Homo sapiens: one gene and its partner. The protein of the gene in region 1 purifies or fractionates together with the protein of each later gene. This does not show direct contact. Each region holds a gene or a part of one and is shown on either strand. Other genes may lie near its edges.

Region 1 (4,607 bases):
CACCTCAAGGACTCAAAAAATAGATTAAGGAACTTCAGAGTTGAAAGGGAACTTAGAGATCATCTAGGAATTTTTATTTTTGTTTTTAGGTAATTATTTACAACTTTCACTTTCAATGACACATCTCATTGAAATCTCAGAACAACTATGTCAAATAGGAGAGAAGTCATTAATCTCTTTTTACAGGAAGGAAACAAGAGAAGCCAAGACTGTGGCAAGTTAGTGGCAGAGCTGGGGGCAGTGGTTATTAGTTCTACAGAACTTTCCCTGTGGCCCCTGCTAGAGGGTCCTATAACCAAAAGGTCAAATGGCTCTTTCTTATACATCTCCATTGCCTGGGGAGCTCACTGCCATCCAAGACAGCCCATTCTCCAGCAGGGTGGCTTTGATAGTTGGCTGTAATTTGTGGTGGTATAGAATGTGTCACATTGAGAAAAAGTGATTTTTAGGGCTTTCACCCTAATGTGTGTTTGGGGGCCGGAGAGTTTGCAGAAATATTCAGAGAACATACAAAGACAGCCAGAATGACAATAATAATAACAATGCCAACCTGATGGTGTCACATCCCTGTTTATAACCCTTCAATGGCTTCCTGGTTCCCTGAAGAGTGAGTCCAGACTCCTTGATGTGCCCACCATAAGCTAGATCCAGCCTCAAACTACCTCTCCATGCCACACTCATCTCCCCACCCCACCCTGGCCATCCTGACTCCTGTTTGCTTTGCCTGGAATACCCTCACCTCCTCCCCACCCCCACTGGCTCCTACAGGCCTCTGTACTCCCCCTAAAGGCCCTACACGCTGCTGGGTTGTACTTATCCATCTCCCCAGACACACTGTGAGCTGGGAAGGGTCAGGGGCTGCATGGGGTTCCTCTGCCCTGGTGCCCAGCATGGAGACTGGTACAGAATAAGTGATTGCCCCATCCCTGCACATTCACAGACATCTCTGCTGTTCTCATAAGCCAGACCAGGAGAGGGTTAAACAATCATGCTGGCCTAGGATTAACTTTGGCATTAGAGAGGCAGGTGCCCCAGTGTTTTACCAGATGCTTGGAAACCTGTTCTCAGGTCAGCTCAGAGATTCAATCCAGCCAGGTCGTCCCTAGAGCTGACTGAGACCTGTGCCACTCCTTGGGCCCTGAGCTGAGCTGCTGGGGGTGGGAGTGGGGGGTATGTGGAGAGGGTGGGAAAAGCTTGGTCCTGTGCAGGCTAGCTCTGTGGCCTTGGTTGAGTCCTTCCTATCTGCTTAGGTATCCCCAACTGGGCACAAAGGAGGCCGGTCTGGGTGGTCCCACGGGTTCCTCTTGTGAGGACTGGCCAAGAGCAAGGGATCCTCAGACTCCAGAACCCCCTAGCTAGGGGTCCCCTAGCTTGGGAGAGACTTTCTCCACCGCAGGGGTGAGGAAGGGTAAATCTTTAACGAGCTAGCCCTGGGCAGCTGGAGTCTTTCCGGATGGATGGCTGCCTGGGATGGGGGATGGGGTGGGAATGCAAGATGTGTGTAGACAGTCCCAGTGTTGTGGAGAAGGGAGGGTATTGGTGGGGGGTAAATAAAGGAGACGCGGGCGGAGCTAACTCCGTGTGCAGAGCAGGACATGGAAGAACGCGGGTCACCCGACGGGTAAGCAGATCTTCAGACAGGTTCGAGGAGTCCTGAACAGCCGCTAGGTGCAGGTATGATAAGTCGCATTGCTGCCCACAGGGATCTCGCGCGGAGCCTGGAGCAAGGGCCAGAGGGGCCGGAAACGCCCATCCAGGTGGTGCTCAGGTGGGTATAAATTGGCTAGGAGGCACCTGGGCGAGACAAGGATCGAGGAAGACATCAGGATGTACCATCTGCCCTTCTGTCGGACCCCAGGGTACGTCCCATGAGCGCGGCCGAGCTGCGTCGAGGGCAGCAGAGCGTGCTGCACTGCTCAGGGACCCGGACTCTGCAGGTGAGGAACCCCTCTCTCTATCTCCCCAATAAAAAATCCCGGGGACGCCAGATCCCTTCCCCCAGGCAACTTTGCCCTAGGCCCCGCGCTCCCCCGGAGTGGTCCTCTCCCAGGTGCCCCGCCCTCCCCAGAGTGCCCCTCCCTTCCAGGATGCCCAGCCCTCCGCCAGGGTGCGCCGCGCCAACCCCTGCGAGTGCCCCGCCCCTTCTGAGTGCCCGCCCACCCAAGGTGCCCGCCCCCCCCAGAATGCCCCGCCCCTCCAGGGTGTCCTACCCTCCCCAGAATGCCCCGGCCCTAGTGAGTGTCCCCCACCCCACCCCCAACCCAGGGTGCTCGCCCACCGAGTGCCTCACCGAGCGCCCTACCCTTCTCCAGGGTGCCCCGCCCTCCTCCAGAGTGCCCCGCCCTCCTCCCGCGTGCCCCGCCCTCCTCCACGGTGCCCCGCCCCTCCAGGGTGCCCCGCCCTCCTCCAGAGTGCCCCGCTCCTCCGCCCCACCCGCGCCAGGTGAGTCCTCCAGGCGGGGGTCCAGAAGTGGCGTTCCGCTTCGGTGCGGTGCTAGACGCGGCGCGCACGCAGGAGGACGTGTTCCGGGCGTGCGGCGTGCGGCGCCTGGGGGAGCTGGCGCTGCGCGGGTGAGTGAAGCTTCGCCTCCGCTCCGCGCCGGGCCTGGCGGGGCCCCGAAGCACCCCCAGCCCCCACCCCGGGTAGCCGCCGGAGTCCAGCCACGCCCTTGCCGCCCGCAGTTTCTCCTGCACTGTTTTCACCTTTGGCCAGACGGGCTCTGGGAAGACCTACACCCTGACTGGACCCCCTCCCCAGGTGAGCGAGCGCCGGCGGCGCCCCCGCGGGGCGGGGCTGGGTGGGCTGGAAGCCCTGGGGAGCCGCAGGCGGCGCAGACTCCCAGAGGGAAGGGGCTGGGACGACGCCGCCTGACCCGCTTGTTTGCAGACGAGGACGCTGAGGACCAAAGAGAAGGGACTTGCCCAATTTGGAGCATTTGGGCTTCAACTTTGGCCCCTTCCTAGCTCTCAGTTTTCTCATCTGTAAAATGGAAGTGACAGTACCGACTATGAATTAAATGAGCCATTGTTTGGGAACTTGGCACGTTTCCCGGCGCACGGTATCATACATGCGCTACAGAGGGTAGTTATTACTGTGGAGATGACGATGGCTCAGCTGGTTTTGCCCCTAGGGGGAGGGGGTGCCTGTACCCCCCAGCCTGGCTGGCATCATGCAGAGGACCTTCGCCTGGCTGTTGGACCGCGTGCAGCACCTGGGTGCCCCTGTCACCCTTCGCGCCTCTTATCTGGAGATCTACAATGAGCAGGTAAGGGAATGAGAGGAATAGAAAGACAGCCCATGAGGAAACGGAGCGCTTCTTTCCAGGGAGCCTGGATCAAAGGACAGAAGAGGCGGTGGGGACTGTTGTCAGTAAGATCTGGGGATGGGTGGACTCAGAAAGATCCCCTTCCCTCACCCTCCTCCCTCCCCTCCCAGGTTCGGGACTTGCTGAGCCTGGGGTCTCCCCGGCCCCTCCCTGTTCGCTGGAACAAGACTCGGGGCTTCTATGTGGAGCAGCTGCGGGTGGTGGAATTTGGGAGTCTGGAGGCCCTGATGGAACTTTTGCAAACGGGTGTGTGCTGACAGCGGGGAGTTTTGCGGGTAGGGGTGCCCATTCCTCAGTTGTTCACTGAGTGTGGACTTGGGGCCCAGACTGCAGCTGCAGCTTCAGAAATGATTCCTGGGGGAGGTGGGGAAGGACCAGTAAACCACAATTCAAAGGCATGGCCCAAGGGCCTCCCCGCACTGCCAACAAGGCCTGCTAATTCTGCCTTCCAAACTCCTTTCACACCCTCTCCTCTCTAGCCCAGGGCCTCGGCCTCCGCCAGGACTCATTCTTGCTCCCTGGTGGTCTCTGCACCTCAAGGCTCTCCCCTGCCCATCCATTCTCCTCTATGCTGCAAACCCCATCTCTCTTTGCCTCCAGACCCTCCACCCTTCCAGGGCCCTGAGGATCAAGGTCATACCTCTTAGCCTAGCCTAAAGGCCCTTTCAGCCTCATTCTTTTTTTTAAATCAAGTATTTATTGGGCACCCCTCCTTTGGCAGGCACTGGAGATGCTGACTGTGGATTCTGGCCCCAGCACTGTGCCACACCTCTCAGCTGATCTCCTGCCTCAGTTTCTCCCCTTCCTTTCACGAAGCAGTGGGAGAGATGTTTATAAAATGCAAATCTGACTGTCATTCTTCTGCTCAGTTTTCTCTATCCTCCATCCACCCATCTCTGCTAGAGCAGGGCCCAACATCCCATCGTTCCCTGAACAACACCCACTCTGTTGCCTCCCTGCCTTTGCATGAGGCTGACCCTTCCGCCAGGATTCCTTTGCTCCTTTTTCTTCATTGATGATGACCTGTTCTTCCTACCAGGTCCAGCTCCTGATGTTTTTCCCTTCCAGGTCTCAGCCGTCGAAGGAACTCAGCCCACACCCTGAACCAGGCCTCCAGCCGAAGCCATGCCCTGCTCACCCTTTACATCAGCCGTCAAACTGTGAGTGCTCCAGCCTGGGAAGGTGCTTACCCGGGGCCACCAAGCAAGGGTCTGTATCTGGACATATAAACCAACTTGGGTGTGCATGGGGGTTAATAATGGAAACTCTTGGTCCCATAACC
Region 2 (3,807 bases), on another chromosome or scaffold:
CAGGGTCTCACTGTGTCGCCAAGGCTGGTCTTGAACTCCTGGGGCTCAAGCAATCTTCCTGCCTTGGCTTCCCAAAGTGCTGGGATTACAGGCATGAGCCACCAAGCTCAGCCCTAAAAACTTTATTCTTAATAGTAGCTAAAGCTCTATTCTACAGTTGGTTATTGCCAACAGCTTGGAACCTGGGGTAAATTTTTTAAGTTTTTAGTGAATAGAAATGAAATGGTTGGTGAATTAATATTAACCAACTCCTGCCGGGCTTGGTGGCTCACGGCTGTAATCCCTGCACTTTGGGAGGCTGAGGCGGATGGATCACTTGAGCCCAGGAGGTGCAGACCAGCCTGGACAACATGGCAAAACCCTGTCTCTACAGAAATTAGCTGGGCATAGTGGTAGACACCTGCAGTCCCAGCTACTGTGGAGGCTGAAGTGGGAGGATCACTTGAGCCCAGGGAGGTTAAGGCTGCAGTGAACCATGAGTGTGCCACTGCACTCCAGCCTGGGCAACAGAGTGAAACCCTGATTAAAAAATAAATAATTCAAAAACTCCTGAAATTAGTTAAACTGCCTGGATTTTTTTTTTTTTTTTTTTTTTTTTTGAGACGGAGTCTCGCTCTTTCACCCAGGCTGGAGTGCAGTGGCGTGATCTTGGCTCACTGCAAGCTCCGCCTCCCGGGTTCACGCCATTCTCCTGCCTCAGCCTCCCGAGTAGCCAGGACTAAAGGCACCCGCCACCACGCCGGGCTAATTTTTTGTATTTTTTTAGTAGAGACGGGGTTTCACCATGTTAGCCAGGATGGTCTCGATCTCCTGACCTCATGATCCGCCCGCCTCGGCCTCCCAAAGTGCTGGGATTACAGGAGTGAACCAAACCACCGCACCCGGCCAAACTGCCTGGAATTTTAACTCACATGTCTAAAGTCTACACAAATTCGTATAGAATATAAAGCCCAATATATTTTCCATTTTTAATGACAAATTCTTTAGTTGTTGACCATATACATTTTATTATAGTTTTAAACATCTTTATTCCTTACAAATTATACCAATGACATTAAATCTGTCACAGCACATTTGGAAGTAGAGACAAATGCACTGATATCTAAACACAGTAGAAGAAAGATACACTGAGGCAGTGAGAAATAATCTAAGTGTGCAAACATCTGAGACACAGCCAGAACAGAAGGCACATAGCCAGGGTACAAGGGTTCCCAGTTCTCAAAAAGCACACACCAAATACCCAATGGAGCTGGTGGTACATTCTGTTACATCTCACAGGACCAAATCATACTCTGCCTGAGACTTCTAAAGAGTCCACACTACCAAAGCCACAGTGCTATACGGAGCAGCCCGGCACACTGGCTATGAAAAAACTACTTACTTACATTATTAGACTGAAGGCTGTTTTACCATAAAATAGACCAATTTAAGGGAGATAATTGCAGGCTTTTTTTTTTAAGGCTAGTCAAGTGGACCAGCCTAGGCTGGTGTTATTTAAGGGTCCATATGAACAAAAATAAATCAGAAGTTGCTTGCTCTATTGTAGATATTATTTCAGATTAACTTGGTATTAACAAGTTAACATTTTAATAATTATCTAGCTATATTTCACTGCCACTGAATACAGTAATCATAACATGGGAAAAAGCAACAGACCCCATATTTAAATTCCAAAAGGCAATAACAATTTAGCCACATATGGTCCATATTATGAACCTATAATACTTGTTTATATACTAGTATTAGGATTCAGTGTAAACTTGGGAGAGGGAAGCAATGGAATGTTTTCAAGATAAAATACTTGTAAGACTGAGCTTAAGACTTATACCTTCTTAGGGGGAGGTGGTGGTTTCTGTTGGAATGCCAATTTTACAGCTTCTGCTGCTGATTCAGGTTCTTTAATTATGCTTTTCTTTGAGTCTGCTTCAGATAGCACAACAAAAAAATGATGACACTTTTCACACTTGACAAAACGGGTGGATGCTGTAAAAGAAAACAGACATAAGTAGAGGGAAATAAAAAATAATTCCAATAGTGTTTAACCTTAAAGACTCCACTGTAAATGAAAGCTACGCACCTGACAAAAAGTAGACTTGCTGTTCAATCTACTTGCCACACAAACAGCCTCATTTATATAGCAAGTATACTACAAAGATAGATCAGTCAACTACCTTTTGCTCATTTCTATTAGGTCCTTTCATTTTGTGATATACTTCTTTAAAAGAAAAGATTGCGTGAAATTTTTCCAACTTTCCATTCACTAAAAAAGATTTTTTTTTTTCTTTGGGAGACGGAGTCTCGCTCTGTTGCCAGGCTGGAGTGCAGTGGTGTGATCTCGGCTCACTGCAACCTCTGCCTCCTGGGTTCAAGCAATTCTCCTGCCTCAGTCTCCTGAGTAGCTGGGATTACAGGGGTGCACCACCATGCCCAGCTAATTTTTGTATTTTTAGAAGAGACAGGATTTCACTATATTGGGCAGGATGGTCTTGATCTCTTCACCTTGTTATCTGCCCGTCTCCGCCTCCCAAAGTGCTGGGATTTACAGGCGTGAGCCACCGCACCCGGCCCACTAAAAAAGATTTAAAACCTCTTTGAGAATATGGAGTAATCATCTATTTTATTGAAATACTTGAATGAACAAACTAAAAAAGTAAAATACAAGATTCATATATTTTTCCAATATTATAAAAAATGTCAAACATATACAAAAGTTGAAAGAGATAAATCTATTTTAATTCCTAAAAATGTAAAAAATGTATATTCTTTACATTCTCTTAAACCCATGAGCATTTTTCGGGCGTGTTGGCTCATGCCTGTAATCCCAGCACTTTGGGAGACTGAGGCAGGTGGATCACCTGAGGTCAGGAGTTAGAAACCAGCCTGGCCAACATGATGAAACCCCGTCTCTACTAAAAAAAAAAAAAAAAATACAAAAATTAGCTGGGCGTGGTGGCAGACACCTGTAATCCCAGCTACTCGGGAGGCTGAGGCAGGAGAATCGCTTGAACCCAGGAGGTGGAGGTTGCAGTGAGCTGAGATTGCGCCATTGCACTCCAGCCTGGGAGATAGAGCAAGACTCCATCTCAGAAAAAAATATATATATAATTATTTCATATCTTTCTTATTTTATCTTTACTCCACTAGTTCCTATTTCTCTGATCAAAAAACCACTAAGAAACTAACAAAATACTGCTTTCTCAGTCATACTGATTGGATTTAAAGATAATCATGCAGACTTTGAAAGCAATACAAAGGTAGTTTAAAGTGAGGATAAAAAGAGTCTCTTTTTTCTTTTAAAAATTTTTGGCCAGGCATGGTGGCTCAGGCCTGTAATCCCAGCACTTTGGGAGGCCGAGGGGGACAGATCACGAGGTCAGGAGATCGAGACCTGGCTAACACGGTAAAACCCTGTCTCTACTAAAAATAGAAAAATTAGCTGGGTGTGGTGGTGGGCGCCTGTAGTCCCAGCTGCTCGGGAGGCTGAGGCAGGAGAATGGTATGAACCCGGGAGGTGGAGCTTGCAGTGAGATGAGATTGCACCACTGCACTCCAGCCTGGGCGACAAAGTGAGACTCTGTCTCAAAAAAAAAAAAAAAAAAAAAAAAAAATTTGTGGATACACAGTGATGAGTTCATGTCCTTTGTAGGGACATGGATGAAGCTAGAAACCATCATTCTGAGCAAACTATCGCAAGGACAGAAAACCAAACACCGCATGTTCTCACTCATAGATGGGAACTGAACAATGAGAACACTTGGACACAGGGTGGGGAACATCACACACCGGGGCCTGTCATGGGGTGGGGGG

The links.
Region 2: the proteins of KIF12 (region 1) and CLPX purify together in Homo sapiens (affinity purification with mass spectrometry, with the first as the bait; one large-scale study listed by BioGRID). This does not show direct contact.

Annotation. Positions count from the first base shown.
Region 1 is NC_000009.12:114,096,265-114,100,871, reverse strand, and holds the start of KIF12 (kinesin-like protein KIF12), read left to right. Parts: upstream 1-1,579; 5' UTR 1,580-1,595; coding exon 1,596-1,621; exon of another isoform or gene 1,622-1,702; coding exon 1,703-1,768; exon of another isoform or gene 1,769-1,858; coding exon 1,859-1,937; intron 1,938-2,410; exon of another isoform or gene 2,411-2,442; coding exon 2,443-2,570; intron 2,571-2,681; coding exon 2,682-2,757; intron 2,758-3,130; coding exon 3,131-3,265; intron 3,266-3,435; coding exon 3,436-3,571; intron 3,572-4,393; coding exon 4,394-4,485; intron 4,486-4,607.
Region 2 is NC_000015.10:65,164,803-65,168,609, forward strand, and holds part of CLPX (ATP-dependent clpX-like chaperone, mitochondrial precursor), read right to left. Parts: intron 1,984-3,807; coding exon 1,829-1,983; intron 1-1,828. UniProt on the Homo sapiens protein: ATP-dependent chaperone that functions as an unfoldase.